3 separate regions of the Homo sapiens genome follow, and all the other regions are linked to region 1. The links come from fine-mapping of genetic effects on gene expression. A gene starts in region 1. Each other region holds a variant in brackets. All regions are shown on one strand. Distances are from middle to middle. Region 1 holds the start of TMEM42 (transmembrane protein 42). Region 2 overlaps ZNF502 (zinc finger protein 502). Region 3 overlaps ZNF660-ZNF197 (ZNF660-ZNF197 readthrough).

Region 1 (10,916 bases):
TGATTGGTTGGTTGGTGAGTTTTTGGGCTCTATTTTTGAGAGTTCTTTTTTTTTAAGTTGAGGCTGAGCTTGGTGAGGTGTGTTTTTAAAAGACCATTAGTCCGTTCTACCTTTCCTGAAGATTGAGGATGGTAAGGGGTATGAAGGTTTCACTGAATACCAAGAGCCTGAGAAACTGCTTGGGTGATTTGACTAATAAAGGCCGGTCCGTTATCGGACTGTATAGAGGTGGGAAGCCCAAACCCAGGAATTATGGCGGACAAAAGGGAAGAAATGACTGTGATGGCCTTCTCAGACCCTGTGGGAAAGGTGTCTACCCATCCAGTGAAAGTGTCTACCCAGACCAAGAGGTATTTTAGTTTCCTGACTCGGGGCATGTGAGTAAAGTCAATTTGCCAGTCCTGGGCAGGGGCAAATCCCCAAACTTGATGTGTAGGGAAGGGAGGGGGCCTGAACAATCCCTGCGGAGTAGCAGAATAGCAGATGGAACACTGAGAAGTGATTTCTTTGAGGACAGATTTCCACGATGGAAAGGAAATGAGAGGTTCTAAGAGGCGGGTTAGCGGCTTGTAACCTACATGGAAGAGGTTATGAAATGACGATAGAATAGAATGGGCCTGTGAGGCTGGAAGGAGATATTTTTCTTGGTCCAAGAACCATTTGCCTTGTGTGGGGAGAGACTGACAGGTGGAAGTTTCAGTGGGAAAGTAGGTGGGAGTGACTGATGAGACGGAGAAAAACTGGCCATGAGGGACAGAAGTTGGAAGGCTAGGTGCTTCTTTAGCTACCTTATCAGCATAAGCATTGCCCTGAGCGATAGGATCTGATGCCTTTTGGTGGCCCTTGCAGTGTATGACTCCAGCTTCCTTTGGAAGTAAAGCGGCCTTGAGAAGAGTTTTTATTAAGGAGGCCTTAATGATGGAGGACCCTTGCGTAGTGAGGAAACCTCTTTCTGCCCATATAACAGCATGGTGGTGCAGGATATGGAAGGCATAGAGTCAGTATAAATACTGACACGTAGTCCTTTTGCAAGAGTGAGGGCCTGAGTTAAGGCAGTGAGTTCGGCTTGCTGAGAGGTAGTGGAGGAGGGCAGAGCGGTAGCCTCAATGATAGATGTGGAAGATACTACAGCATAGCCTGTTTTGCTGGTGAGTGGCAATTAGGCCTGGTGGAACTGCCATCAGTAAACCAAGTGTGATCAGGATGAGGAACAGGAAAGAAGGAAATATAGGGAAATGGAGTGAATGTCAGGTGGATCAGAGAGATACAGTCATGGGGGTCTAGTTTGGTATCCAGAATAATGTGGGAGGCCGGACTGAAGTCCGGGCCAGAAAAATGGTAACTGTGGGAGACTCAACAAAGAGTGAGGATAGCTGAAGGAGTCGGGAAGCAGAAAGTATATGCATCAAGTGGGAGGAAGAAAATAGATTTTGGAAATTATGAGAACTGTAGAAAGTGAGTTGAGCATAGTTTGTGATTTTTAGGGCCTCTAAAAGTATTAGGGCAGCAGCAGCCGCTGCACGGAGACATAATGGCCAGCCTAAAACAGTAAGGTCAAGTTGTTTGGACAAAAAGGCTATGGGGCGCGGTCCTGGTCCTTGTGTAAGAATTCCGACTGCACAGCCCTGCACTTTGGCTGTGTGTAATGAAAAGGGTTGGGATGAGTCACAGAGAGCTAGTGCAGGAGCAGTCTCTAAAGCTGTCTTCAAGGAACGGAAAGAGGAGTGGGGAAAAGATTTAGGATCTATAGGGTCGGCTAGATTTCCTTTTGTGAGTTTATTTAACGGTTTTGTTAGGATGGCAAAACCAGGTATCCAAAGTCGAAAGTATCCAACCATGTCCAGGAAGGAAAGGAGTTGTTGTTTTGTAGAAGGGGTTGGGGTTTGAGAGATCAGTCAGACATGATCGGCAGAGAGAGCACGTATGTTTTTATGAAGAATTATGCCGAGGTAGGTAACGGATGGAGAAGAAATTGAGCTTTGGAGGGGGATACCCAATATCCCTTGGAGAATAAATGTTGAAGGAGCAGGAGGGTGTCCTGTTGAGAAGATTCAAAGGAGGGGCTACAAAGTAGAAGGTCATCAATATATTGAATAAGGTGAGAAGCAGAAGGGTGGAAAGAAAGTAAATCAAGAGAAAGAGCTTGGCTGAAGTAATGAGTGCTGTCCCTGAAGCCTTGCGGCAGTACAGCCCAGGTAAGCTGCTGGGACTGATGGGTGTCAGGGTCAGTCCAGGTAAAAGCAGAGGCTGGGACGAGGGGTGTAGGGGAATAGTGAAAAAAGCATCTTTAAGATCAAGAATGGAATAGTGAGTTGTGGAGGAAGGTATTGAGGACTAAAGAGTGTACAGGTTGGGCACTACAGGGTGGATAGGCAAAATAATTTGGTTGATAAGGCGCAGATCCTGAACTAACCTGTAAGACTTGTCCGGTTTTTGAATAGGTAAAATGGGAGAATTGTAAGGAGAGTTTATAGGTTTTAGAAGCCCATGCTGTAGCAGGCGAGTGATAACAGGCTTTAATCCCCTTAAAGCCTGTTGTGGGATGGGATACTGGCATTGAGCAGGGTAAGGGTGATTAGGTTTTAATGGGATAGTAATGCGCGTGTGATGGGTTGCCAGGGAGGGAGTGGAGGTGTCCCATACTTGTGGGTTAAGGTGGGGGGGATACGAGAGGAAGACACAAAGGAGGCTTTCGGTTGGGAAGAAGGGTGGCAATGAGATGTGGCTGTAGTCCAGGAATAATCAGGGAAGCAGATAATTTGGTTAAATATTTCAGCCTAATAAGGGAACTGGGCAAGTGGGGATAACTAAAAAGGAGTGCATTAAAGAACGTTGTCCAAGTTGGCACCAGAGTTGGGGAGTTTTAAGAGGTTTAGAAGCCTAGCCGTCAATACCCACAACAGTTATGGAGGCAAGGGAAACAGGCCCTTGAAAAGAAGATAATGTGGAGTTGGTAGCCTCTGTATTGATTAAGAAGGGGATGGACTTATCCTCCACTGTAAAAGTTACCCGAAGCTCGGTGTCCGTGACGGTCCAGGGGGCCTCCAAGGCGATCGGGCAGCATCAGTCTTCAGCTGCTAAGCTGAGAAGATATGGGAAGGAGTCAGTCAGAGAGCCCCGGGCCAGAGTTCCAGGGGCTCTGGGAGTGGCTGCAGGGCAAGCTGGACAGTCTGATTTCCAGTGGGGTCCCGCACAGTTGGGACACGGCTTAGGAGGAATCCCAGGGCTGTGGGCATTTCTTGGCCCAGTGGCCAGATTTATGGCACTTTAAGCAAGCTCCTGTGGGAGGCGGTCCTGGAGGAAAGCCTGGCCACTGCGGTTCAGACGTTTTGAAGTTCTTGTGTGCTGGAGATGTGGCTGGGGTTTCTCTCACAGTGGAGGCAACTAATTGCAACTCAGAAAAACATTGCTACTTGGCTGCCTTTACTCTATTATTGTACACCTTGAAGGCGAGGTTAATTAGGTCCTGTTGTGGGTTTTGAGGGCTGGAATCTAATTTTTGGAGCTGGCGGCTTGGGTGCGGTGGCTCATGTCCGTAATCCCAGCACTTTGGGAGGCCAAGGTGGGTGGATCACTTGGGCCCAGGGGTTCAAGACCAGCCTGGGCCACATGTCAAAATCCTGTCTATACAAAAAATACAAAAATTAGCCAGGCATGATGCACCCATAGTCCCTGCTACTCAGGAAGCTGAAGTGGGAGAATCACTTGAGCCCAGCAGGTTGAGGCTGCAGTGAGCTATGATCCACCACTGTACTCCAGCCTGGCAGACAGAGCAGGACCCTGTCTCAAAAAATACATATATATATAATCTGGGCTTGATGGTACCTGCCTGTAGTCTTAGTTACTCAGGAGGCTGAGCTGAGAGGATGGCTTCAGCCTGGGAGCTCAAGGCTGAAGTGAGCCATGATTACACCATTGCACTCTAGCCTGGGTGACAGAGAGACTCTGTCTCCCTCTAAAAACAAACAAAATTCAGTCTAGCTCTAGACCTAATGAGAATCTTCATCTTAGCAAGATCCCTAGGTGATGTGTGTACACAGGAGTTTCTTAGAGGCAGAAATCACTTCCCAGCAGTGTCTGAGGATGGCATCACTTCAGCCATCATCACCAGGGCTGGGGACCTGGAGATTAACAACGATGTAGTCCCTGCCCTCAAGGAGCTTGCAGGCTAGCAGAGAAACAGACAACCAGAGGAACAACCACAGGACTGGTACAAAGGTAGGGGAGTAGCAGAGACGGCTTTACAGAGGAGGTGGCTCTGAGATGCTTAACCTTTAGTGCTAGTAGAGGCATCGTTTGTTCTAAGAAAATTTGCTTTACATTCTTTAAAGCATGCAGAGTTGATCAATGCAACACCTCTTGATTTCCTGATAAGAGCTTTCAGAGGGTATCATCTTTGAGCAGCTCCTTACTCAATGGAGTGGTGCAGTGAGACCTCTGAGCCTCAATTTCCTCATCTGCAAAATGGGACAGTTTGTACCATATTGGCGTTACTGAAATTATCCGTGTTTTTTTTTGAGACAGAGCCTTACTCTGTCACCCAGGCTGGAGGGCAGTGGTGCAATTTCGGCTCACTGCAACCTCTGCCTCCTGGGTTCAAACAATTCTCTGCCTCAGCTTCCCAAGTAGCTGGGAATACAGGTGCCCGCCACCACACCCAGCTAATTTTTTTTGTATTTTTAGTAGAGATGGAGTTTCACCATCTTGACCAATCTGGTCTTGAACTCCTGACCTCGTAATCCACCCACCTTTGGCCTCCCAAAGTGCTGGGATTACAGGCGTGAGCCACCGTGCCTGGCCTTATCCGTGCTTTTATTTGAGCCACAAAACCACCCTGTGAGAGAAGCAGCATGGTGTGGAAGGACTTCCATAAAAACTTGCTAAACAGAAGATACAAAAAGAATGCTGCTAAACAGTATGTTCAACTGTGAAATCATTTTTGTTTAAAAAATGCATATACATATTCTATAATTTTTTTAACATTTTAACTATATATAACTAAATAGACATATAGAAAAATGCTCTATTAACACTGATTTTCCTGGAGAGTGGAAATAGCACTTTATACATTTCAACACTTTATTTTCAAGGACGTGTACTTTTTAAATGGGAACATTTTATTTTTATTTTTATTTTTTGAGACGGAGTTCACTCTTGTTGGCCAGGCTGGAGTGCAATGGCATGATCTCAGCTCACCACAACCTTCACCTCCCAGGTTCAAGCGCTTCTCCTGCCTCGGCCTCCCGAGTAGCTGGGATTACAGGCATGCACCACCACGCCCGGCTAATTTTGTATTTTTAGTAGAGACGGGGTTTCTCTATGTTGGTCAGGCTGGTCTCGAACTCCCGACCTCAGGTGATCCACCCGCCTCGGCCTCCCAAAGTGCTGGGATTACAGGCATGAGCCACCACGCCCAGCCGGAAACATTCTAAACATACGTAAGTATAACAGGAGATTAGAAGTCATGTTGATTCTGCGTGGCTTGATTATGGATCATTGTCTTCCTCTCATCGCAGATCCTCATTTTTTCGGTTTTCTGTGATGCGCTTGTCCCCATATGGGGCTCTGGCGTCTTTCTGGGTCTGGAGGTCCCCAGCGCCCTCTGCCGAGGCATCTCTTGGTCCGGCGGTCCTCAGGCTGGAGGGTGGAGCGGAGAAGCCTGGTCGACGTGGATGGACTCGGTGGGCCGGCGCGGGGCCCGTTAGGCATCTTTAATAAGTTTCACCGGGAGCCGGGTGGCCGGGATGGAGACGGCTAAGCCGCGAGAAGTTTACCTTCTACCACAGCGTCCACAGTACCCGGCTTGGCCTCAGGCCTCGGGTCCCGACGTCCTCCCCAGAGCACAAACCTACTACAGGTTAGGCCGGAGGCCGCCACAGCCCAGGGTCTCTGCCACCTGGCCCGCCCCCTCCGAGGCGCCGGAGAGCGATTCCCAAGGGGCCTGCCGGAGCGTGGCGTCACAGGAGCGTCGCGTCACGTGAGGCTGCCATCCAATCGCGGCGCGCGCTCTGCCCTGCGGGCAGCGGGTGCCAGGCACGGTGTCAGCAGGCAACATGGCCGAGAGGCCGGGGCCTCCGGGCGGCGCCGTGTCCGCGACCGCGTACCCTGACACCCCCGCGGAATTCCCTCCGCACCTCCAGGCGGGTGCGATGCGGCGCCGCTTTTGGGGCGTATTCAACTGTCTGTGCGCCGGCGCGTTCGGGGCCCTGGCCGCCGCCTCCGCCAAGCTGGCCTTCGGCAGCGAGGTCGAGCCCGGGGCGCTGTTGGTGCTGCTGCTGCGGGCGGGCGGGCGGGGCGCCGCTGGGCGGAGGAGGGGCGCTGCGGGGCCCGCGGGGCTCTTGGGGTGGGGCGGGGGTGGGCGCAGGGCGCCGCCGCACCCTCGCCGGTCTGTCCCGCCGGGGCCCCGGGCCGCGGGCGGCGCTGCGGTCAGCTGGGGTGGCAGAGAGTGTTTCGCCTCTAATCACGCCAAACCCTCGTCCAGTGTAGGTGGTAAGAGACGTCGGGGACTGAGGCCTCTTCCCTTACCAGGGACCTAAAACCTTTTCTCCGGTTGGGCTAGTTCGCTCTCGGGGAAGAACTACACCTCCTACATCCACCCTCTACCTCTCATTTTAAGTCCCTTGTGCCTGAGCATTTCTCTCCACGTGACTCTTAAGGTGAGAAGCCTCTTGCCCATCCCTTTACTCCGTAATTAACGGGTGTTGTGACCAGATGACCAGTCTGCCCCACTACCAGGAAAATTGGGAGTTTGGGATACTGTAGGCATAAGAGGATACTGACAGAGACGTTCTGGATGTTTTCCTGACGCTGAGAACTCCTAAACTTGCATCCTGGCGTCTGCTAAGGTGTATCTCTGCCTCTCCCTCCCACGTCGTAGACCAGCCTCTGCTTGCTATAGGGGTTTCATTGCGTCTGCAGCCCAAGGTTAGCCTCTGACCTGGACAGTGGTCACTGATTATTTAGGGTTAAGCCTATTTAGGGCTAATCCAGTAGTAGCTGCCATGCTTCAGGTTAGTATCCCATTGGGTGTAGTTCATGGGGTAAGTGGTCGAAAGTAAAATGAATAACTTTGTATGGGCCGTGAAGTTTGTTGTCAGGAACTAGACCTTCATAACCCTTTAAGCAGGTTGCCACTGGCCCATATGCTGCTTTGTGTAAGACAAGGTTGTCCAACTCGCGGCCCAACGCAAATTTGCAAATTTAAAACATGAATTTTTTTGCGATTTATTATTTTTTTTTTAGCTCATCATATATCATTAGTGTTAGTGTATTATATGTGTGACCCAAGACAGTTCTTCCAGTGTGGCCCAGGGAAGCCAAAAAATTGAACACCCTGGTGTAAGTTATAAGCAAGCACCTTTTTCTCAAGACACTATGTGTTCAGCTGCTGAGAAACCATTACAAGTAATAAGTATATTTAGATTCCGCACCCCCCCCCCCCGCCGCCTTGTCTCCAGGCAGGTTTCTAACTCACCACCAAGCAAGGGGGACTGCATATCCTTTGTGTAGGAGGCTTCTAAAGATCTTCTCTTCTCTTGAGACTTTCTCCTTTAAAAAAAAAGAAAGAAAATACCTGCAAGTTCTCCAAGGGATGTCTGGGATCACTAAATAGTCTGAGGTGGTGTTTCCCTCAGGCAAGGCTGTGCCCTAGTTAAGAGCATGGAGGTACACTGCCTGCTTGTGAAGCCTGGTGGCTCTCACCGCTGTAGCACTTTAGGAAGGTTACTTAATGCCCCTGGCTCTTTATCTGTAAAATGAAGTTAAGGAATAAATGAGAATGCTTAAACACAGCCCAGGACCTAACACAGAGTAAAAGCTCAAGAATACCCAGAGGGGGTCAGCCTTAGTGGGCTGTAACTTGTATAGGATTTGGGGGTGGGAATACAGAGCAGACATTGCTAATTCATGCTTTGCCTGATCTCAAGAAATAAGAACTCTACCCTAGGCTTACTACCTACGGAGTAAGAACTACTTGGCCCTCTGGGACTGATCTTCAAGCACTGGTCATTGTGGGACCAATAAGGGGCCGGTGTTCAGTAGAAAATACTGGCTTTGGATTAGCATTTTGCTTCTTCCCAAGATCATATGGCCAGCAAGGTGGCCAAATGAGTATCTTCTCTGAATTTGCTTTATTTGTAAGATGGGTCTGCTGCCCACTGAGGGTTAAGTGAAGCCCTGTGCAGGAAAGCTCTGAGGCCCTCTGAGCTGTAGTGGGAGCTCAGTAGGAGCCTGGGTGCCAGCAACCACAGTCCTGGGTGTGCTTTGAGGGGGTCTGCAGGTTGCTGCCCAGGGTGGACGTGGCTGCAGTGACACTTTCTCCTGCAGGTGAGCATGGGTTTATGCGTCTTAGGCATTATTGTGATGGCGAGCACCAATTCTCTGATGTGGACCTTCTTTAGCCGGGGCCTCAGTTTCTCCATGTCTTCAGCCATTGCATCTGTCACAGTGACTTTTTCAAATATCCTCAGCTCGGTGAGTAGCCTGAGGGTGTGGTGCTCTTGTCCTAAATCTGGGTTCTGGGTGAGTTGTCTTTGGATAACCCCTCCTTTCCCAGACAGGAGAAAGGACAGGAACTGAAGCAGAGGTTGGGCTGTGGCTTGACCCCTGGATGAGTGCTCTATTCATGGAGCAAATGTAATTCTAATCATGGAAGAATTCTTAAGTTAGATATGAGTGAAGCCTGACAGTAAAAAGCCTACTTGCTTGCTGTTCCTCCAGGGTGGAGCCCTCATTCTGAAGTCACTGTGCATCCTAGCTGTTTCCTAGGGTTCTGTGTACTCAAGGCTCCATGGCATTTAGAGGGTTGGGATTCCCAGAAACTTTTCTGCCCTGTGTAGTCTGAGGTTGACAAGATGGAGCTGAGCGTAGTCAATCTTGAGTTGAGGGAGAAACAAATACCATGTACCTGCTGTGTCTACCTGCTGGCATCTGCTGGGTCTTTCTTGTGTACTTTGCTGAGGTCCAGTGCAGTGAGGGAGGTAGCCTCTCCACTCATGCAGGGGAGATTGAATAGAGTGACTTGATGAAGGTGACAGCTAGGTTTCAAGCCCAAGGCTTCTGGCTCCAGACCTTTCCTCCTGGCACCCTTAGAAGGAAGTCAGTCCCAGGAGAGTGAGGTTGTGCCCACCTGCTGAAGTTGAGTCCCTCACAGCTATCTTTGTCTCGCAGGCCTTCCTGGGCTATGTGCTGTATGGAGAGTGCCAGGAGGTCTTGTGGTGGGGAGGAGTGTTCCTTATTCTCTGCGGACTCACCCTAATCCACAGGAAGCTCCCACCCACCTGGAAGCCCCTTCCACACAAGCAGCAGTAGCACCACTTGGCTAGACGGACCAGCTGGAAAGATCATGATGGTGGCCCAGCCTTGGGATGTCATGTGGGACTGTATCCTAGGGCGATCCAGTTGTGCAGCCTTCTGACCATCAGCCAAGGGAAGCAGGCCTCTGATGGAGCAGGCTCTGGCTCTGTAAGGAGAGGTGCAGCTGCAGCAGTGTTCTACCGGAAGTGTTTTGATCATCTGTACAGTGCTTTGGATTCTTCCTCCCAGGCCTACCCCAGTGAGCCTTCGCAGATGCTGGAGATCCTGGGGTTGGTCTGCTTTGTGTATGGTACTTGAAACCACGCTGTAATTATTGTCCTGTTGCCAAACAAAAGCCAGTCATGTAACTCTAGAAGCAGTGACTGGTGGGGCTTTCTGACAGTTCCATGCTGATGTATCAGGCCATCTGTGTCATGCTTATGTATTATGGCAAGAAGAGGAAAACTGGATTAATAAATACGTTTTTTGTAAGTTAAAACTACCAGGTACGGTATCTTAATTCTTTCCTTCCCTTTGGAGTAAGAGGGAGCCAGAGTGAGCTGAAATCCCAATGTGGAGGAGGCAGGAGAGTGAGGCAGGTACAGAAGCCTTGTGGCTTCGGTTGCTCTGACACCTGCTAGAGCTTGATCTTGTGGTTACTTCCTGAGGTCACACAGGCTAAGGCTCTTTGAACTGCACAGGGTCTGTTCATTCTCCTGGTGCTCTCAAGGAGAAAAGTTTGACCTCCCTTTGGAGACCTTGTTTTACTTGGGAAAGAAAGTGGTTCAGAGGTCCCTCCATTCCCTGCCACTCTGTTCCTCTAGCGTTTACCTTTAGGGCTCTTCTGTCATTTGCTTTTCTTTCTCAGATTCCCCTTTGGTTTTTTTTTGTTTTTTGTTTTTTTGTTTTTTTGGGTTTTTTTTTTTTGAGACAGTCTCGCTCTGTCACCCAGGCTGGAGTGCAGTGGCGCAATCTCAGCTCACGGCAAGCTCTGCCTCCCGGGTTCGCGCCATTCTCCTGCCTCAGCTTCCCGAGTAGCTGGGACTACAGGCACCCGCCACCATGCCCAGCTAATTTTTTTTATTTTTAGTAGAGATGGGGTTTCACCATGTTATCCAGGATAGTCTCGATCTCCTGACCTCGTGATCTGCCCGCCTCAGCCTCCCAAAGTGCTGGGATTACAGGCGTGAGCCACTGCACCTGGCCCCCTTGTTCTTTTTGTATCTTAGACCATGTGAATGTAATTCCTAGTTCAAAGTGGGCTGTGTGCTGCCTGCACACTTTCCCAGCACAGAGCCTGAAGCCCGGCACTTACCTGCCTCACTTCTCCCCTGGGGTGTCCGAGGGCCCTCTCAGCTCTCCTGAGTCTGATCTCTGGCCCCAAGTCTTCTTCATACATTTCCTGCAGTTGAGAGGGACCTGGTAGCCAGGAGGCTAGGAGAGCGAAGGGTCTTGTCCAGACCCTCCTCCTCGCCCATGTAGCACCTTCATTGCTCTCCTCCCTTACTGTGGTCAGCACAATTGACAGAATGAGCTTACTAAAACCATTCCACGGCTCCTTCTGATGGGGATCTGGCCCTAGCCCACCACTCCAACAAGAGTTCTCTTCCGCAATGACTCCT
Region 2 (10,916 bases), 140 kb before region 1:
AAAATCACTAACAGCCAGATTATTCCACAATAGGCATTTGTAGAAGCACCTGTACATTACTTTCTGGGCAACTTATAGACCTAGGAGTCAGCAAATATGGACCAAATTTGGTCTGCCACTTTTTTTGGTAAAACTGTTTTATTAAAACACAGGCAAGCTCATTCAGTACATATTGTCTGTTTCTGTTTTCAGACTACAAAGGCAAAGTTGAATAGTTGAGACAGAGACTATATTTTCCATTTAACCCATTAAACCTAAAAAAAATTGCTTTCTGGCCTGTTACAGAAAATGTTTGCTGACCCTTGACATTGACAAACTGCTGACAGCTCAGATGATCCATGATTGGAAGGATGTGGTCATCACCAAGATGTCTTTCTTTCTCCGTAGGTTTTAGTATCAACCATAATAGCATCTAACCCCTGTTGAGTGCCTGCCATCGAGTAGATATCTTTTTGAATGCTTTATGTGAATTAACTCATCAAGGATTCACAGATTATCAGAGCTGGAATGACCCGTAAATATTGTCTAATTTGTCACCCTTTTCAGATAAATAGCCTGTCATGTAGGCCCACTCACATGGGCTATTGGCAGAGCAAACTTTCCTGAGTCCCAATCCAGTCTACTATCATCTTGTGAATGGGAGGCCAATACCATAGCCATTGGATCTGGCATTTTGTTTTTGTTTTTGTTTCTGGGTTTTTAAAAAGTAACTTTTTCTACCTATAAAAGTAATATATGTTTATTGAAGGAGAAGTAAAAATATAGAAGAGTATAAAGGACAAACTAAAGTGACCCATTAACTGACCTAGAGATAAATGTGTTAATATTTTGGTGGGTTTTCTTTATGTCTTTTTTAAATGTGTGTGTTTTATCTGTTTATTAACAATAGTTTCTGTTTATTGAGTGCTTAATGCCAGTATATGTGTGCATATTTCTTGTTTTTTAGTGTTTTGTATCTTCCTGTTTTAACATATTATATTTTCTCATGAATATTCTTTGAAATTATGATTTTTGATACCTTCATAAGCTATCTTTGCTAGTCTATCAATGTTTATTTGCCTGTTTATTTAACAATTGTAGTAATAGTGTGATCTTTGTACATAAATCTCTGGCCATCTCTGATTATGCTTTTTCACTTTTTCTTTGATTACAGAAGTTAGTTATTCCTATGGGAAAATTTTCAAACATTACAAAAAGATAGGCCTTAAGGCAAAAGTTTACCATAATTTTATTCTTCAGATATGATCACAATAAATAATTTGTTATATATTCTTATAGATTTGTTTTTTTTTTAAAGTGGAGCAAAATATAGATAATAGAGGACATTTGAGGAAATTATTCACAATTCATTATTTTACCACAGTGATGATTATTTTTCCTTCTTGATCTTATTCAGATGTATTTTTAATTTTTAATTTTTGAGAGGGATCTCACTCTGTCACCCAGGTTGGAATGCAATGGTGCTATCACAGCTCACTGCGACCTCTACCTCCCATGTTCAAGTGATCCTTCCACCTCAGCCTCCTGAGTAGCTGAAACCACAAGCACGACACATGTATATTTTAACAAACATATATTTTACATTATATTACTACTTGAAATTTTACTATACTGGATTTTTTCAACATATGGCATAAATATTTTTCCCAATAAACACATATTTTCATTTTTAATGATCTTAATGCCTAAATAATTTTCACCAACTAGAAGTACCATAATTTGCTAATCCTCAGTGTCCACCAGTAGAAAAACTTTTATTTCCATGTACATTTCAGGGGATATTTTTACAAGTAACAGAAGAATTCTGTTTCTCTTCTCTCTGGAAATTTACTTCTTTCTGAGAAAATTCTATTTGTAGAATTACTAGGTCAAAGAATATAGTCTTTTTTTTTTTTTTTTGAGACGGAGTTTCGCTCTTGTCGCCCAAGCTGGAGTGCAGTGGCGTGATCTCGGCTCACTGTAGCCTCTGCCCCCTGGGTTCAAGCAATTCTCCTGCCTCAGCCTCCTGAGTAGCTGAGATTACAGGTGCCTGCCACTGCGCCCGGCTAATTTTTTGTATTTTTTAGTAGAGACGTGGTTTCACCATGTTGGGCAGGCTGGTCTCGAACTCCTGACCTCAGGTGATCCACCTGCCTTGGCCTCCCAGACTGCTGGGATTACAGGTGTGAGCCACTGCGCCCAGCCGAATATAGTCATTTTTTATGGCATACTGATGACTCTGAGGTACACTACAGGTGGTGTATATACAAAATGAGCATTCTGTTCTGAATTCCTGTATCCACAAAATGTTGATCACAGCATCCTAACTATAACTGAAGCTACAACTTTCACACCTGATGTATATTGCCAGATTAGCTCCAGAAAGATGGTACCAACTTACATTCGCACCGGTATGTGAGAAACTCCCTGTACCTTTGTGAATCTTGAGTGTAGCATTAAAGATAGATTTTCCAGTTTGATGTAAAAATTGATTCTTCATTCTTTCAGTTTCCATTTCCTTGTTTACCATAAAGATGGAACATTGTTTTGATATGTTTACTGGCCTGTTGTAATTCTTGGTGTATTTTTTGTATTTTCCATTTTTCTCTCAGTTCATCTTTTTTTCTTACTCATTTGTAAGAAGTCTTTATTAGGTCTGTCTATCCCTTGATATATAACTGAAAAATACTTTTTTAAAGCTTGTTTTTCTTCATTTTCTTTGTATTTTGGATATACAGAGTATTGTTTTTATGTGGTCAGATTTATCAATTTTTGTCCTATCCATTTTGCATCATGCTTGAAAGTGCTAACCCTAGAATGAATTATTGGTCATACTTTATTTTGTGGTTTTACTTTTTTTATTTAACCCTTTAATTGGTTTGGGTTTATTTTGGTGTGTGGCATGATATAGTAATCGCACTTTTTTTTCCAGGTAGTTAGCAATGGTGCCAACTTGATTTATGAATTATCTATCTTTTTGTGATTAGAAATGCTGCTTTTATCATATATTAAATTATTTTTATTTACATCTCTTAGAGGATTAGAGATATTTTATTTAATTAATTTATTTTTGAGACAGGATCTTGTTTTGTTGCCCAGGCTGGAGTGAAGTGATGCAATCTTTTTTTTTTTTTTTTTTTTTTTGAGATGGAGTTTCGCTCTTGTCGCCCAGGCTGGAGTGCAATGACACGATCCATCCTCACCACAACCTCCGCCTCCCGGGTACAAGGGATTCTTCTGCCTCAGCCTCCCAAGTAGCTGGGATTACAGGCATGTGCCACCATGCCTGGCTAATTTTGTATTTTTAGTAGAGACAGGGTTTCTCCATGTTGGTCAGGCTGGTCTCGAACTTCCAACTTCAAGTAATCCACCTGCCTCAGCCTCCCAAAGTGCTGGGATTACAGGCATGAGCCACCACACCCGGCCAATGCAATCATATTAATAGCTCACTGCAGCCTCGAACTCCTGGACTCAAGTGATCCTCCCGCCTTAGTAGCTATGACTATAGGTACACACCACTACACCCAACTTAATTTTTGTTTTTTTTTGTAGAGGTGAAGTTTTCTATGTTGCCTAGGCTGGTTTCAAACTTCTGGCCTAAAGTGATCTTCCCACCTTGGCCTCCTAAAGTGCTAGGATTACAAGTGTGAGCTACCTCACCTTGCTGGGATTAGAGATCTTTTAAGTGTTTAGACTCACTGTTGGAGTTTTCCTAGCCACATTGCTTTAAAGATTTTATCTGTTACTCCTGTGATTTCAAGTACTTTTTTTATGTCTAAAACTCTTCAGGCCACACCTCTCTCCTCTCTTTCAGCTGTGTATGCCCTGTTCTACTTTCTGTTTGGATATTTGAGACTAAAGATAACTTATTCCTTTCCAGACCAGTGTACCAGTGTCACTAAAGATCACTGTCATCTCCCAAAACTGCCTAATTATCCTTGACATCTCCCTCTCTCACCCTTCCCACCAATATTCATTCATTCTGGTTGAACCTTTCTCTTAATCCAGTCCCCATACTGGACTACTGAAATAGCCTCACAAGGGATCTTCAAGCCTTCACCTTGCCCTCCCACTCCTCACCACTACGCAGATTATCTGTTGCTGTAGACAGAGGAATATGTTTCCTTAAAACAGTGGATCTAATCATGTCATGTATTCTATCAAACTGTTTCAAATCCTTATTATGGCTTTCTCTTCACTTTAGGGTAAAGTCCTTAAAATGTTTTTTAGGGTTCTGTTTGAACTGGCTTGCCTCAGGCTTTTATGTCTCATTTCTGGTGTTTAATACTTGGGCATTACTATGTTTCCTTTATTCCTCCAAAGTACTGAGCTTGATTCCTTTTGTATGTTCATTTTGTCTCTCTTCTTTTCCCTTTCACACGTCTAAAGGGGACCCAGACTATATTAGGTCCCCTGTGCTTTACATTCTGTAGCACCCCATACTTGCAGTTTTGTAACTCCCATATTTGAAATGATTCATTTAATGTCTTTGTCCAGCTATGACACAAGTTGGAGCCAGATAGGGTGTCTGGCTTCTTTTTCCAGCGTCTAGCACTGATTAGTCACCCAAATGCAACTCTGCTTGCATGAGTCTCTGAGTCTCTGTAGGATTGTATAGTAGCTTACAGGTTCCTTTATGTTCTTCCTGTGAATGAGAATCAGAATCAGGAAAACCAGGTAGGATCATCTTCTTTTTTTTTTTTTTTTGAGATGGAGTCTTGCTCTGTCGCCCAGGCTGGAGTGCAATGGCGCAATCTCAGCTTACTGCAGCATCTGCTTCCTGGGTTCAAGTGATTCTCCCGCCTCATTCTCCCGAGTAGCTGGGATTACAGGCACCTGCCATCATGCCCAACTAATTTTTGTATTCTTATAGAGACAGGGTTTCTCCATGTTGGCCAGGCTGGTCTCAAACTCCTGACCTCAGGTGATCCGCCTGCCTCAGCCTCCCAAAGTGCTGGGATTACAGGCGTAAGCCACTGCTCCAGGCCAAGGATCTTCTTAAATCTTTAAAACTCAATGCAGAAGCACAGACTTCACTAAGAAGTCCACAAGACCAAGCTTATTATGTACTTGAGCAGACTTATTTTATTCTTTCATGTCTTCCAAGTTCTTGACTCTGGTAAAATCATATCTGGATCTTCCCTTTTTCCTTGAATAATGCTGCCAGTTCTGCTTCTCACTTCAAGGTTAAATGGAGAGATATTTTTGAGTGAACAGTTTTGGTATTGATATTTTTAAGAAGCAGCATTTACAGAAACTGGTATTTTTGCAACTTTTTTGTAAGTCAAAACTTATTTCACAGTTAAATTTATTTCTGTTTCTTTTTAACTGCAGCCTGTTCTCTGACACTGAGCTATACCTGAAGAAAAACTGTTTAATTGATATGACATCTTGAAGAAGGGACAATCAGTGTGTCTCTAGTTTGTATCAAGTAGATAGCATTCCCTAACACTATCTCAGCTCCTTGGCATTTGGTAGAAGTGGGTAAATCAGACTTAATGCACAAGCTTTGCTATGAGGACATTTTGCTATACAACTTTTAACTATATTAACTGGCTTTTCATATAGAT[T/G]ATTGTATGATGGCCAGAGTGTACTAATTGATGTGAATATTCCTATTCGTTTAATCTTTATAATTATAAAAAGGTAATGAATAACATTCTGATTTACTTATCAAGTGCTTAAATATTTGATAGTATGTTAGTCTGATGTTACCACTTCTTGAACAGCTGGCAAATGGGGTGTGAACCTAGGAGGCTACAAGCCAATGCTGATTTTTGCGGATGCTTCCACATTGTTATCCTGAGAGTTATTGTGTGTGTTATTAGATAGTGTCCCTAGGCAACAGCTCTTTGTTTTCGTTCTGTTTACTGGGACAGTAATATTCCCTCCCTCCCTGCACCTTTTCTCCCCATGAGCAGGGTTCCCAGTTTTCCAGACCTGAAGTGTTTTCCAATCAAAGCGAAGAGACGATCTGTGGATGTTGAATATGCAAGGAGCTGAAGAGAGAGACATTAGAAGAGAGACTTGTCCAGGTGAGTGAGCAAGGGACAAGCAGTGGGAGAAATAGTCAGCCAATAGGAAGCCTTTGGAAATTTTAGAGGACAAGCTGGGTGAGGCTCAGGAGATAAAATAACTGTCTCTTATAGGGATGTTGGGGACAGGGGTGGGTGAACATGTCTGGGGCCAACTTTTCCCCAGTACTAATTTTATCATTCTCATTTCTAGCATTTTCCTGTTTACATTCTCCCACTCTCCACTCTGGATACAAACCATTCATGTTTCCTGTCTTGCCCTAATCTCAGCCTGTGTGTTGGGTGTTGTTTTTCATTTATCTCTATTGTCTCATTCTCTTGCTCCTTGGGTGTCTGTAGCTACCCCTTCCATGGGAGTTCCTCGTTAATGGTGATCACATTACCCTAATGCATATCTCTTCTACCAGTTACAACTCTAACTTACTTGCCACACTTGCTGTTACTGGCCCTTCATCATAGGCCATTACTGAGGTCTGCCAAAAGTTAAGGTCTTACAGTTTCAGGGGCCTTCACTCTGCCCTGTACAGGAGATATTCATTCTGCTGTTTTCTTTCAGGCTGGGTAAACAAGAACAAGCCTGCTCTGGAGCAGGATGTCTGTAAAATTGACTCATCAGGGATAGTAGTAAAGAGGTTCCAAGAGGATGAATACCAAGATTCTACATTTGAAGAAAAATATGCATGTGAGGGCATGAAGGAAAACTCTCCTAGGGAGATTGCTGAATCATGCCTTTTCCAGGAAGGAGGTTTTGGGAGAATAACTTTCATCCACAAAGAAGCACCCCCTGAAATTATTAGTCAAGGATATAATTTTGAGAAAAGCTTGCTTTTGACCTCAAGCCTTGTTACACGTCTCAGGGTTTCTACAGAAGAGAGTCTGCATCAGTGGGAAACAAGTAATATACAAACCAATGATATTTCAGACCAAAGTAAATGTCCAACTCTCTGCACACAGAAAAAATCTTGGAAATGTAATGAATGTGGAAAAACCTTTACTCAGAGCTCATCCCTTACCCAACATCAGAGAACTCATACTGGAGAGAGACCCTACACATGTGAGGAATGTGGGAAAGCCTTTAGTCGTAGTTCATTCCTTGTTCAACATCAAAGAATTCACACTGGAGTGAAACCATATGGATGTGAGCAGTGTGGGAAAACATTTCGATGTCGATCATTTCTTACTCAGCATCAAAGAATTCACACTGGAGAGAAACCTTATAAATGCAATGAATGTGGGAATTCCTTCCGCAATCACTCACATCTCACTGAACACCAGAGAATTCACACTGGAGAGAAACCTTATAAATGCAATAGGTGTGGGAAGGCATTCAATCAGAATACACACCTTATTCATCATCAGAGAATTCACACTGGTGAGAAGCCTTACATATGCAGTGAATGTGGCTCTTCTTTTCGAAAACACTCAAATCTTACGCAACATCAGAGAATTCACACTGGGGAAAAACCCCATAAATGTGACGAATGTGGGAAAACTTTCCAAACAAAGGCAAACCTCTCTCAGCATCAGAGAATTCATAGTGGAGAGAAACCCTATAAATGTAAAGAATGTGGCAAAGCCTTTTGTCAGAGCCCATCTCTTATTAAACACCAGCGAATTCATACTGGAGAAAAACCATATAAGTGTAAAGAATGTGGCAAAGCGTTTACTCAGAGCACCCCACTCACTAAACATCAGAGAATACATACAGGGGAGAGACCCTACAAATGCAGTGAATGTGGTAAAGCCTTCATTCAGAGCATTTGCCTTATTCGGCACCAGAGAAGTCACACTGGAGAAAAACCCTATAAATGCAATGAATGTGGAAAGGGCTTTAATCAGAACACCTGCCTCACTCAGCATATGAGAATTCATACTGGAGAGAAGCCCTATAAATGTAAAGAATGTGGGAAAGCCTTTGCTCATAGCTCATCTCTTACTGAACATCATAGAACTCACACTGGTGAGAAGCTCTATAAATGTAGTGAGTGTGAGAAAACCTTCCGCAAGTATGCACACCTTAGTGAACATTACAGAATTCACACTGGTGAGAAGCCTTATGAGTGTATTGAGTGTGGAAAGTTCTTCAGACATAGTTCAGTCCTTTTCAGACATCAGAAACTTCACAGTGGTGACTAATGCTGCCATTTAGGTTATGACAGTTTCTCTAGCGAGGATGACTACGAATCTGACTGGGAGTAGAGGGGCAGGTAGAGTTCCTGGAGGGAAGGATGAAGGAGCCTTGGCTACTGTACTCTGAGAGGAATGTTTCCAGAAATGGAGGTGGGAGCTTAGGGAATGCAGAGCCTACTTGAGGTGGGCATCTGGGAATACAGGGTAGAAAGAAATTCCTGCTTTTCAGATAAAGCCTACACATTGCCACTGTCTCCCCATGTGACTCTTACAGCTTGAGGAGGCATTTGTTAGCACTTCTGTTCACTTTACTACATCCTGCCCCACATTCTGACTTGTCACCCATTTTCGTTGGCTGGCAGGTTGAGATGTTTTTCTTAAACACTGCCTGTCAGTGTGAAGTGGCACAGCTCTGATGTAGTGCTAAGTCTAGCCTCCAGATTTGAGGCAGCCCTGACCATGCTACCATGGGGGAGGCTCCCAACCTGTGGAAGTGGTCCTGTGAAAAGGAGACAGAAACAAGTAAGAGCCAAAAAAAAAAAAAAAAAAAATCCATATCCATTCATTAAAAAAATGAGATATAAAGCAACAACTGGGCTGACCTCTATAGATCTGCCAGTAAAGAAGGCTTTCTTTCATTATCAGGGTGAAGGTCTTTCCTGATTCTTCCAAGCTTTGAGGTGACTCAGAGCTAAGAATGAAATAGGAGACCAAGTTAGAATTCATGATACTGGTTTATGGGGAGGCAGTCATACCTGTTCAGAGAACCAGGAAGACTCAATATCTATCTCAGAGGAAATATGGTTACCCAGGAAAGAAATGGTCTGCTAGAGTGATAAGACTCAGAACAGGAAGCCTGCATGTGACTGAGCAAGTCACCTACATAACCCTGCCTGTACTAAGGTGTACACCTGTCTATTGTAAGTTTGCCTAGGCTGTTGGTGTACAGAGACCAGAGGAGAGAGACACACTAGGACTAACAATGTCCTAACAAAATGGTACTTAGTTTGTTGGTCTTTAGGAGAAAGCATTAGTAATGAAAGAAGAAAGAATTTTCACTTGGTTGGACATTGGGGCTCTTAAGAAAGTTGACATTTGTCGTGGAATGACTTTGGAAAGACTTCTAAAAGAATCTTTTTCAAATCCCTGAAAATCAGGATAGCACATTTTGCTACTGACTGTGACAGTGTTTTATTCTTTTGAGAGAAATGACATAGTTTTCCCTTTATTTCCCAAATTCCTTTCATGTTCTTAACTGCTACCCAGAAATTGAGCTTCAGAAGATTGAGGATAGCCTTTGATTGGTATTTAAAATAATTTCTAAGCTGTGAAGCTTATAGCATTTTTAAAGTATGGCTATTAAAAACACTAAGTTGATTCTGGAATGCTTGGTTATTTGGAACTCATCGTTTTTTTTTTTTGTTTTTGTTTTTTTTTTTTTTTTCTAGAGCAGTTGCCTTGTAGGGATAGGTTTGGGCCATGAATTACCATTAATGGGAGTATGGTATAAATATATATCTTTTTCACTTTCTATGAAGATTATGTTCTTAAAACCTACCACCAGTGAAGTCATAATTGAGAAAATTAATACACTATGGGTAAAAATAATGCTGTAAAACCTTTCTAAATATGTTTGTGAAAATATTATTTTACCAAAAGCAAAAATGTATTTATACCTCCTAGATAAAAACTGCATAATTAATTACTGGCACATAATACATGTTCAGTAAATATTTATTTCATGAGTTATATCAACTATTGCCCAACAGAACCTTTCTTGGAACTTCCTGATGAATAGTTATTTATAGCAATATTTGTACACCATCTTGAGAATTATGAGTGGAGATTAGAATAGGGAGAGTTTTCTTAAGAAAGAAACAAGAAAACTTTAAAGATATCTCAGGAGGCTGAGGCACAAGAATCACTTGAACCTGGGAGGTGGAGGCTGCAGCCAGCCGAGATTGTGCCTGTGCACTCCAGCCTGGGAGACAGAGTGAGACTTTTTCTAGAAAAAAAAAAAAAAATGATATCCATAAGTTCTTGTGGGAAAGATTTTCTCAAGTGAAACAGACTTGATCCTGAATTTTTCTCAGGCTGAGAAAATATGGCATGTTTTTACCTTCTGGGGAAACAGTTAAATAACTGTTCTTTCCACTACCCTGACCCCATATTCTTACACTTGGACTTATGTGCTCCCGATTTTCTCTCAGTTGCTGGCCCATGATGTACCTAGTCTCTCCAGCATGGCCCCAAACCTAGTCATTGCCCTCACCCTCAGTTTTCCCTCTTATTCAATCTTCATATCCATTCAACCACTATGTCCTGTTGAAGTTATCTCCTATCTCTGGAAGCCATCTCCACTGCAGTTATTGTAGTCCAGTCCCCTACTCCCTAATTTATTTTCTAGACTATTTTATTTTTAATTTTAATTTTTTTTTTTTGAGACAGGATCTCACTCTGTTGTCCAGGCTGGAATGCAATGGCATGGTCTCTGCTTACTGCAAACCCCCACCTCCCAGGCTCAAGCGATCCTCCCATTTCAGCCTCCCAAATAGCTGGGACTACAGGCATGTGCCACTATCCTTGGCTAATTTTTATATTTTTTTGTAGTGATGGGTTTCACCATGTTGCTCAGGCTGGTCTCGGACTCCTGGGCTCAAGCAATCTGCCTGCCTCAGCCACCCAAAGTGCTGGGATTATAGGCATAAGCCACTGTGCCTGGACTTCCTATTTTAAAATTTATCTACCAGTCTTCCAGTTTCTTGCCCCACTAGG
Region 3 (10,916 bases), 230 kb before region 1:
ACACTTGACAAACTGAGAAAAATTTGCAGCTGCCATTGTAAACAAAGGACTAATTTTCCTGTGATAAAAGTGTGTACAAATTAACAAGACCCAACACCTCAATGGAAACATGGGCAAAATATATGAATAGTTACTTTAAAAAATATACAAATGACTCTATATTAATTCGTTCAAAATGCAAGTCAAAAATTTGGCGAAGAGCACAAACTTTGAGAAACATATTGGTGAAAGTGAGGAAAGGCACTCCCATACAGCTGTTTCTGATGGGAGTATAAATTATAAATTGGTTCAATCCTAGTGAGGTCAAATTGGCAATATCAAAATTATACATGTATATACCTTTTAACTCAGCAATTCTGATTCAAGGAATTTTTCTTATATATGCCTACACACATCCAAACTGATGTATGCCCAAGATTATTCATGATTATATTGTTGGTAATAAGAAATGATTGAAAACTACCCAAACATTCCATCAGTGCTGGCATGAATAAATTATGATACATCTATGCATCCATAAAAATGCGGAGAGGGGCTGTGTATTGACAGGAAAGATCTCTAAGACATATTATTGAGAAGAGGAAAATGTACCACGTCATTCATGGTGTCCTACCATTTGTGAAAAAAAGGGAACTAGAAAACAATATATGTACACACATATGCAGAAATAACTGGAAAGATAGATAAGAAGCTAACGGAGAAGGAAACTTTACACAGTATACATTTTATAATTTTAAATTTTGAACCAAGTGAATATATTACTATTTTTAAAAATAAGGAAAAATGTAAAGTAAAGCCTCTTTAATGCTGAAATGTAAGTAAAATCACTTCACTTACAGGACAGGATCATCTCCTCAGAATACTGCCTCTCAAGAGCAGTAGTTAGAATTTAACTTCTGTTCACCTCTCTGCTCTACTCCTACACTCTTGCCTCTGAAGTTTACTTTCCTTCTCTGGTCTTCCTTCACAGAGTTATGTGTCCTTCCTTGCTTTTGAAAATAGAGTTTCTTTCTTCCTGGAATGGCTTTCCTCATAGTCCAATGATCCTTTTATTTTTCCTTAAAAGCCCAATCCAAAAGTACCTTTCATGGCTGGGTATGGTGGCTCATGCCTGTAATCTCAGCACTTTGGGAGTCCAAGGCAGGCAGATCACGAGGTCAAGAGATTGAGACCATCCTGGCCAACATTGCGAAACCCCGTCTCTACCAAAAATACAAAAATTACCTGGGCATGGTGGTGCGAGCCTGTAGTACCAGCTGCCTGGAAAGCTGAGACAGGAAAATTGCTTGAACCTGTCAAGCAGAGGTTGCGCTGAGCCGAGATCATGCCACTGCACTCCAGCCTGGGTGACAGAGCGAGACTCCATCTCAAAAAAAAAAAAAAAAAGAAATTTCCTTTCATGAATCCTTTCTGTAGTTTTATGTTCTCCTATTACTTGTACTTAAACATTATATTGAAATTATGTTTATATTTCTGGCTCCCCTGTTTGTTATAAGCAAGCTCTCTTTAAGGGTCTGTGTGTTCAAATAAAGAGGATGTTTTCATATGTCACTGATGGTGATATAACTGTTATAACCTTAAAAGCTTAAAAATGTTTTTATCCTTCAGCCCAACAATTTTCTCCTAGGAGTTTATCCTGAAGAAATAAGCAGAGATGTAACTAAAAATTTGTTATCAAGGATAGCCGTTGTGACCTTATTAATAATAGGGGAAAGTTAGAATTTATCTATGATAATTAAACTATGGTAAGGACATAGTTCAGAATAATAGCAGTGATTGTTTTCTGGTTTTGTGTGTTTTCTGGTTTTATAATTAGAAAAATGTTATTTCTAAAGAGCAGATGATTTCTAGAGAGCAAGTCTAAGTTCTGTATAATAAAACTCTATTCATATTTATCCATCTGTGGGACTAGATGTGAAAGGAAAAGAAGAAAAGGCAAATTTATCCAAATATTTTGATTAACAGAAAGAACAATTTTCAGAGAATTAAAGGCATGTAGAGCAAAACTACACAGAACTTAATTCATCCTTTCTTTGTTAATTGAGGAGGTGGTTAGGATTTTCTCTCATATGTATCATGATTAATGATTACTTGTTAACTCTGCGGAACATAGGAAAGAGTACTAGTTACAGAAGGGTAATAAGTAACATTTAAACCCGTATACCAGGCACTGTTCAAAAACTTGAAATGTATTATACATCAAATTCTCATGACAACCCCATAAGGTAGGAACTGTTACTATCCCTATTTTACAGGTTAAGAAACTAAGGCTCAGAAGTGAGGTACTTGTTCCAGGTTACACAGGAGTAGTCAGGATGCTCATTGTTAGAGTGGTAAAGAGTCTATTGTAATTAGCTGAAGGGATCCTATGAACAAAGACCAAAGGAAGTTCATGTGTTTGGTTTCAGCAGTCTCGTGCGTAACATGAGTGTTTGTATCCCAGAGCCTTAGGCAGGGGGTTTCTGTCAGAGGAAGCACTCTCTAGAGCCTGGAACCTTGCACTCACAAAGGTTCTCTTTATTACTGGGAGCTGACTGGGAGCTGACTGGGGCCTGGAAAGCTCAGTTGTTTCTCTGGGCTAACTTTAACAATGATTTCTTGAGGTCTTGTAGATGATACTCTCCAAGCTGTAAGGAAGAAGTCAAGGATTAAGGAGACCTGGACTGGAGAGGAGCCTTTTTCAAAAAACAACAATGACAAGAGAAAATGTAGCCCACAATGCTCTGAGACAAGAGGGCCTTGTGAAGGGGAAGGATGATACCTGGAAATGGGGAACCAGCTTCCAAGGAAGTAGCTCCTCTGTTTGGGAGACCTCCCACCTACACTTTAGACAATTACGTTACCATGAGACATCTGGACCCCAGGAAGCCCTGAGCCGGCTCAGGGAACTCTGTCGCCGGTGGCTGAGACCAGAAGCACGCACCAAGGCACAGATCCTGGAGCTGCTGGTGCTGGAGCAGTTTCTGAGCATCCTGCCTGGGGAGATTCGGACCTGGGTACAGCTCCATCACCCTGGAAGTGGCGAGGAGGCTGTGGCCCTGGTAGAGGAGCTGCAGAAAGACCTTGATGGACCAGCAATACAAGTGAGAAAGACAGGGAGGGGCGGTGGGTGTTGGGATGAAAGGAAGGAAAGAATTGAGGCTAGGCTAGAGGGTGATCCTGTGATTTTCATTAAAAATTAATAGCATTAATAGCACACTAGCAACCTTAATGATAATTAAAGCAGGTCCATGAGTATTCAGACCATAGAATATGTCTGTAGAGAAACGGATTTACGTTGAGGTCTTCGGGTCCAACTGAGAAGCAGCATAAAAACATTGACTGTTTTGTCCCTTGGGTAATGCTTGCTAATGCTGAGTTTGGACCAAGAACCTGAAGAAGAAATGTTAATAAGTTTTTCCCTAAACAGAAGCCTATGTATTGTTTCTATAATTCTGTTTGGAATGGTGATGTAAGCCTAGAGTATAAAAGGCAATAGCAGGCCAGGCACAGTGGCTCATGCCACAGCATTTTGGGAGGCTGAGGTGGGAGGATCATTTGAGGCCAGGAGTTCAAGACCAGCCTGGACAACATGGGAAGACCCCATCTCTACAAAAAATTTAAAAATTAGCCAGATGTAGTGGCGAGTGCCTATAGTCCCAGCTACTTAGAAGGCTGAGGTGGGAGGATCACTTGAACCCAGGAGGTTGAGGCAGCAGTGAGCTATGATTACACCATTGCACTCCAGCCTGGGTGATGGAGTGAGATCCTGTCTTTAAATAAATAAATAAATAAAATGGCAGTAGCATAACAAGAATGAAGCTTTCCACATCTTGGTAAGATCTCCTCTTGTGTGCCCTACTAGGGATCTGCAAGCCAAGGGATTGGGTTAAGATATTTGCTTCTGATAAGATTTATATCCTTGACCATTAGATTGGGATCTTAATGTAGCCTCTCATGTGTGTGAGATTTCTTTTTGTACATCTGTAGCTCACTAGAAACATTTCTGTATAAGACGTCTGAATCATAACTCAAACTTGGGTGTGGCATTAAGGATGGGCTTGTTTCTTTTAATAATAACGTGAACAATTTTAGAGCTATATATTTCGTTACAAATTACTAATACATCCTCATTTGAGAGATAAGGAAACTGAGGCAGATGTCTAGCTGGCCGCAAAACCAAGTGTCTTGGTGCCAATTTTAGTGTTAGTTGTATTTGAGCACAAAGGGCTAGGTAAAGGGGTCAATAAGTAGATGGTAAATAAGTAGAAGAGATGTGACTGAAGTCCGATCTAAAACTTAAGTCTGAAGCTAAAATCCATGCTCTTAATTACTGCTTATTACTTCCCATTCCCTCCTTAACCCACACCCAGGTCTGGCTTCTGTTCCCACCGTTGTGTACAGTCTCCTCTGGGAGAGGTCACCAGTGCCATGAGTGGGGCTCGAGGGCAGCTCCATTGTTCTCAATGCAAAGCTTTACTGCTGTTTTGATGCTCCATACTTGAGGTGGGTCTCTCTGATCTCACAGTTGTAGATTGTGGGCAGAAAGAGGTCCACAGTGCTTAGGTGAGTCCATTTTCTTAAGAAACAAGAAGAGCTAGCTTATTTTACTTGTTTCCAGGTTCCAGTCCTTGTCAAGGATCAGGACACTCTCCAGAAGGTGGTGAGTGCCCCAGGAACAACACTTCCTCCTGTACTTCCTGGCAGCCACATAGCAGCTGAAATTTGCCCGCATCCTCCTACTGACCTAGTGGCATTCAACCTCCAGGATCCTCAGCATGGTATTTACTCAGTGCTCTGGGTTTTGGGCTGTTCAAGGACCCTTCCTGTGGCTCATCCCCCTACTTCCAGGGAGTTGCTTCCTCTGCTACCCTGTCTAGGAGTCTCTTACAGTGCCAATTTCTTTCTGCTGTTCTGTTGTTCTCTCCTTCTTTCTTGGGCCCCTCTGAGCTTGTATACATCCCCCCTTTTTTTTTTTGAGACGGAGTCTCGCTCTGTCGCCCAGGCTGGAGTGCAGTGGCGCGATCTCAGCTCACTGCAACCTCCGCCTCCTGGGTTTACGCCATTCTCCTACGTCAGCCTCCTGAGTAGCTGGGACTACAGGTGCCCGCCACTGTGCCCGGCTAGTTTTTTAATTTTTTTTTTAGTAGAAACGGGGTTTCACTGTGTTAGCCAAGATGGTCTTGATCTGACCTTGTGATCTGCCCGCCTTGGCCTCCCAAAGTGCTGGGATTACAGGTGTGAGCCACTGCACCCGGCCATTTTTGTTTTTTTTTTTTGAGATGGAGTCTCGCTCTGTTGCCAGGCTGGAGTGCAATGGCACAATCTCGGCTCACTGCAACCTCCGCCTCCCAGGTTCAAGCCATTCTCCTGCCTCAGCCTCC[C/T]GAGTACCTGGGACTACAGGCACGTGCCACCACGCCCAGCTAATTTTTTTGTATTTTTAGTAGAGACAGGGTTTCACCATGTTGGCCAGGATGGTCGTAATCTCTTGACCTTGGGAGCCACCCACCTCGGCTTCCCAAAGCTCTGGGATTACAGGTGTGAGCCACCACGCCCTGCCTTGTATCATTCTTACTGCTACTCTTTGTGTTATTCCAGCTCTGCAAGTGGGGTCACTCAGAAAAGGTTTGTAGGTCCCATATGCAGCTTTTTCTCCCTCCTCAGATTCTCCTGCCCCTGAAGCTTCTGCCCTTTCCCAGGAAGAGAACCCAAGAAATCAATTAATGGCACTTATGCTCCTAACAGCCCAGCCCCAGGTAAGGTTTGCATCCTCTTTCCTTCCCATCTGCACAGCGTAACTGTGGCTGAAGTGCCCTCTCTCATCCTTGTGCTTCAATGTCCAGTCAGTTCCCATTTCTAAATCAGGGTCTATGCTATTGGAAGACAGACTTTACATGTGATCTCCTTATGTCTCCCTGATGTCTGTTATGCACTCATGGCCTCACAGTGTATCCCTTCCCCAGAAGTGAAGGGAACCTTTCGACAGGCAAGTTCCTGGGCATTGGTAATCTCACACACACTTGTTATTTCAGGAGTTGGTGATGTTCGAGGAGGTGTCAGTATGCTTCACTTCAGAGGAATGGGCATGTCTGGGCCCAATCCAGAGGGCCTTGTACTGGGATGTGATGCTGGAGAATTATGGAAATGTGACCTCCCTAGGTAAGGATTCTTCTTTCTATGATGCTTACCTTTATTTCACCAGCCTTTATTTGTTTTCTGATTATAAAAGTAGCATATATGTATTTTGGAAAACACCGAATATTACAAAGAAGAAAAAAACCTTCCTTAACATCGCTATTTCCAGATAACTATTATCATTTTGATATATTACCTTTCTGTTTTTTCTATATGTTTGAGGGATTTTTTACATTGTTCCAAAGTGTGTGTGTGTGTGTGTCTGTGCACAGTTTTATAGCTTGCTTTCCTTGTGTGTGTTCTCACATGTTACAAACTCTTTGCAGTTATTATCTATATTGGCTATATGATTTGTACCATAATTCAGTCAGCCATTCCTTATTTTAGATAACTGCTATAATAATCATCTGTCTCTGTGCCTAAGGCCTTCTAAAATGTTTTATTATTTTTAGAGGTACAATTACTGGGCATAAGTGTTTGAATGGCTTTGAGGCTCTTGCTTCATATTGCCAAATTACTTTCTGTAGCGATCCCTGTCCTCTCTGTTCTTAGAAGTGGTGTATAAGAACACTCCTTTTGCTCTGCCTTCATTTGTACTGAGTAATCCCACAATTCTAAATTGTTGCTAATATATTTTTAAAGTTATATATATTCTAAAATAGATTTCTTTGATAAATAATAAAAGAATATTTCAAAACAATTTTTAGCCATTTTTGCTACCAGCAGACATTAAATACCTATCATGGTACAGCTGTGAAAATGATGTGATTCGGCCCTTAAATAGCTTACAATGGTTTAGGAGATGATTACAGAGATATTAAATATACAAGGCAGAGTAAAATAATTGGTACAAGAGTGGCATAAACCTGGTGTGACAGAAATGCAGAAAACGGGGCAATCAGTTTCATTCCTAGGGATTAGCAAAGGCCATAAAGGAGGTAGCATTTATACTGGAACTTGAAGAAAAGAGTAGAATTCTCTTTGGAGAAATCAACGTTCAGAACTGGGTAATCAGCCACAGGAACTAACTTTGACTGAAATACAGATTTACAGTATCAGTTTAAATGGCTGCAGAGTATTGCATGGTCTGTGTATCATGCTTTACATTGACAGCTTTATGATTCTGAATGTTTCTATTCAAGAACATTACATAACATTCCATTTTTTCTGTACTGCTTTTGTATGCATCGGGCATGTTTTAAAATTGCCTAGATCTTCCATATTTCTGGTAATATTTATTCTTTGGAATTGGAGTCTTTTCTGTATTTTCTAATTGACTGTCATTTGCATATATGAAAGTACTTTTTGTTTGTGTTAATTTTGTACCTAGCAACTTTATTTTATTATCTTTAATAATTTAAACTGTACATTTTCACACTTTTGAGACTGTATCCTTTAGTATCTCAGTAGTGGCAGTGGTGGGTGAAACAGTCTGTAGATTTTATACTTTGATACATATTACCAAATTATTTTCTACCAATGATACTTGAATTAAACTCCCACAGAAAGAACACACAGGAGAGCCAATTTTCCCTGGATATGCTCATGATTTGGTCAGTCTTTTAATTAAATCTTTGCTAGGTAGATGAAGAATACCATCTTTTGTTTGTTTTTCATGTTTTCATTATTAGTGTGATTGAAATCTCTTCATATGTTTATTGGTCATTTTACTCCTATTCATATACTTCCTATATATAGAACTACTGCTAATGCTTTGTCAGTTGTTGCATATGTTTTTCCCATTTGTTTGCCTTTCAATATTATTAATTTTTTTTAAGCCTTAGAAAATCCTTTATGTTGTCAAACTTGGCAGTATTTTCCTTTATGGTCTTAGTGGTCTTTTTCCTCATAAAATTATTTTGTAAACCCACCTGTATTCTATTTTTTTTTTTGAGATGGAGTTTCCACTTGTCGGCCAGGCTGGAGTGCAGTGGCGTGATCTCAGCTCACTGTAACCTCTGCCTCCTGGGTTCAAGCAATTCTCCTGCCTCAGCCTCCCAAGTAGCTGGGACTACAGGCATGCACCACCAGGCCCAGCTAATTTTTGTATTTTTAGTAGAGACGGGGTTTCGCCATGTTGGCCAGGCTGGTCTTAAACTCCTGACCTCAGGTGATCCACCCGCCTCAGCCTCCCAAAGTGCTGGGATTATAGGCGTGAGCCACCATACCCAGCTGTATTTTCTTATTTATCATTTTATTTTGACATTTAAGCTTTAATCCATCTTGATATTTATCAATATATCTTGATACATAGAATGACATAGACATCTTGTGGAGGGGTGTTATTGCTTTTTGAGATGGCAGCCTCACTATGCTGCCCAGGCTGGCCTCAAACTCCTGGCCTCAAGCAAACCTCCCACCCCAGCCTCCCAAGTAGCTGAGACTCTAGGCATGCACCACCCTCCAAGCTTGTTTTTTAATCCAAGTAGCTTTCAGTAGTTCCAAAGCTATTTACTCAATAATCAATCTTTCCTAAAAATTTTAAAATAGACTATATGGATTAATTGGCTAATTTTATGAAGAACACTCACCATGGACCCATACCTCATGCTGTATACTAAAATAAATTCCAGATAGGTCTAAGAGTTAAACTAAAAAAAAAAAAAAACCAATAAAATAATGTAATTGCTTGATTATTCTGGCTCTTTGAAGAAAAAGAAACTTGAACCTACTTTAATAAATTAAAAAAAAAATGTGCACTCCGATGTTGTTGGGGCTTCGGGCAAGCAGATGCCCAATGTTTATTCCCATTGACTTAGTAACTCTGATTTGAGATACATTAAAGAAATGGTTCAGAAAGAGGAAATAAAAGTTATATGTCTAAAAATAGTCCCAGGTAACTATGATGGTTAAAAGTTGGGCAAAACAAATTCCCTAAGGGTAAAGTACTAAGCAGAACATGGTGTTTTGACCTAATAGTATATTATGACACTATCAAATATTATGACAACTCTGTGTACTCAATTTTCATGCATCGATAAACTGTGGTAGAAAAGTAGACTCCCAGATAACTTGTACATACTACTTCAGTATGTAAAATATTTGTATATGTTTATTTAGGAGATTGGACTAAAACTTGAAGGAAAGTATTAAGAAATATTGAGTACCTCCCCTGTCAGGCTTAGCCCCTGCCTTAAAGTACATTCAGATTGGAGAGATAGACATTTCCACTTATAATTACAATACAATTTGGCACATTCTGTATAATAAAAGGGTGCATAAGTTTGTGTGAGCCCATAGGATCCTGGGAATGATGGAAGGATTGGGACAGTGGGAGGAGGAGATGGATGGTTCCCAGTTCCTCCACCAGGAAGGAAAGATTTATAACAGTTTTACTGAGGTATATTTAACATACCGTAAAATTCACCATTTAAAGTGTACAGTTCAGTGGTTATTGTGTATTCACAGAGTTGTGCAACCATCACCACAATAATTTTAAAACATTTTCGGCCGGCATGGTGGCTCATGCCTGTAATCCCAGCCGTTTGGGAGGCCAAGGCAGGCGGATCACGAGGTCAGGAGATCAAGACCATCCTGGCTAACACGGGGAAACCCCGTCTCTACTAAAAATACAAAAAAATTAGCCGGGTGTGGTGGCAGGTGCCTGTAGTCCCAGCTACTTGGGAGGCTGAGGCAGGAGAATGGCTTGAACCCGGGAGGCAGAGCTTGCAGTGAGCCGAGATTGTGCCATTGCACTCCAGCCTGGGCGACAGAGCAAGACTCCGTCTCAAAAAAAAAAAAAAAAAAAAATTTCATCAACCCCAAAAGGAACCTTGAACCCTTCAGCAGTCCACCTTCATTTCACCTAACTCATTCCTCCAATCCAGCCCTAGCAGGCACCAATCTACTTTCTACCTCTGTAGATTTGTGTATTTGAAACATTTCATATAAATGGAATCATGCAATATGTGGTCATTTGTGATTGGCTTCTTTTACTTAGCATAGTATTTCTAAGGCTCATCCATGTTGTATCAGGTATCAGTTCTTTATTCCTTTTTATTGCCAAATATTCCATTGAATGGATGTATCTCCCATTTATCAGTTGATAAATACTTAGGTACTTCCGCTTTTGGTCCATTATGAATAATGCTGCTATGAACGTTTGTGTATAATTTTTTGTGTGGATATATGTTTTCATTTCTACCTAGAAGTAGAATTGCTAGGTCTTATGATAACTCTGTATTTAATCATTTGAGGAACTTCCAGACTGTTTTCCAAAGCAACTGCACCATTTTACACTCCTTCCAGCAGCGTATAAGGGTTCCTGTTTCTCTGCATCATCCCTAACACTTGTTATTATCTGTCTTTTTTATTTTAACTATCCTAGTGGGTCTGAAATGATATCTCACTGTGGTTTTGATGTGCATTTACCTGATGGTTAATGATGTCAAGCAACTTTTTATGTTCTTATTGACTATATGTACGTCTTCGGAGAAAACTGTCTATTCAGATTCTTTGTCTATATTTTAACTAAGTTATTTGTCTTTTTATTACTAAGTTGTAAGAGTTCTTTATATATTCTATATATAAGTCCCGTAACAGATATATGACTTACAAATATTTTCTCCCATTCTGTGGGGTCTTGCCCTGTTGCCCAGGCTGGAGTGTAGTGGTGTGATCATAGCTTACTGCAGCCTTGAATTCCTGGGCTCAAGCGATCCTCTCACCTCAGCCTCCCAAGTGGCTGGGATTACAAATGCACCCCACCAGCCTGGCTAATTTTAAAATTTTTTGTAGAGACAGAGTCTTACCGTGTTGCCCAAGCTAGTCTTGAACTCCTGGCCTCAAGCGATCTTCCTGCC

Evidence for each region.
Region 2: its variant is fine-mapped to the expression of TMEM42 in whole blood (TOPMed, PIP above 0.99).
Region 3: its variant is fine-mapped to the expression of TMEM42 in whole blood (TOPMed, PIP above 0.99).

Annotation. Positions count from the first base shown.
Region 1 is chr3:44,855,872-44,866,787 of GRCh38, forward strand. It overlaps TMEM42 (transmembrane protein 42), which reads left to right and starts at 6,041. Exons shown (of 3, transcript NM_144638.3): 1 at 6,041-6,245; 2 at 8,326-8,472; 3 at 9,169-9,793. The coding sequence starts at 6,054. The coding sequence ends at 9,309. MIR564 (microRNA 564) reads left to right here and starts at 6,017; the gene lies at 6,017-6,110. It also overlaps a transcript of KIF15 not described here. RefSeq lists an enhancer at 5,501-6,090 and silencers at 6,121-6,170, 6,501-6,550.
Region 2 is chr3:44,714,306-44,725,221 of GRCh38, forward strand. ZNF502 (zinc finger protein 502) reads left to right here. Exons shown (of 3, transcript NM_001134442.3): 2 at 5,898-6,011; 3 at 6,568-9,526. The coding sequence starts at 5,957. The coding sequence ends at 8,147. LOC105377056 (a long non-coding RNA gene) reads right to left here. Exons shown (of 3, transcript XR_940788.4): 3 at 1,212-1,532. Among named protein-coding and RNA genes, the nearest start is that of ZNF502, 7.1 kb to the left of the region's middle. RefSeq lists an enhancer at 5,831-7,030. The variant T/G (reference allele first, on the strand shown) is at 5,550.
Region 3 is chr3:44,626,462-44,637,377 of GRCh38, forward strand. It overlaps ZNF660-ZNF197 (ZNF660-ZNF197 readthrough), which reads left to right. Exons shown (of 8, transcript NR_147692.2): 3 at 2,613-3,083; 4 at 4,353-4,485; 5 at 4,601-4,760; 6 at 5,644-5,735; 7 at 6,012-6,138. ZNF197 (zinc finger protein 197) reads left to right here. Exons shown (of 6, transcript NM_006991.5): 2 at 2,613-3,083; 3 at 4,601-4,760; 4 at 5,644-5,735; 5 at 6,012-6,138. The coding sequence starts at 2,694. All of the region lies in intron 2 of ZKSCAN7-AS1 (ZKSCAN7 ZNF cluster antisense RNA 1), which reads right to left. Among named protein-coding and RNA genes, the nearest start is that of ZNF197, 6.9 kb to the left of the region's middle. The variant C/T (reference allele first, on the strand shown) is at 5,364.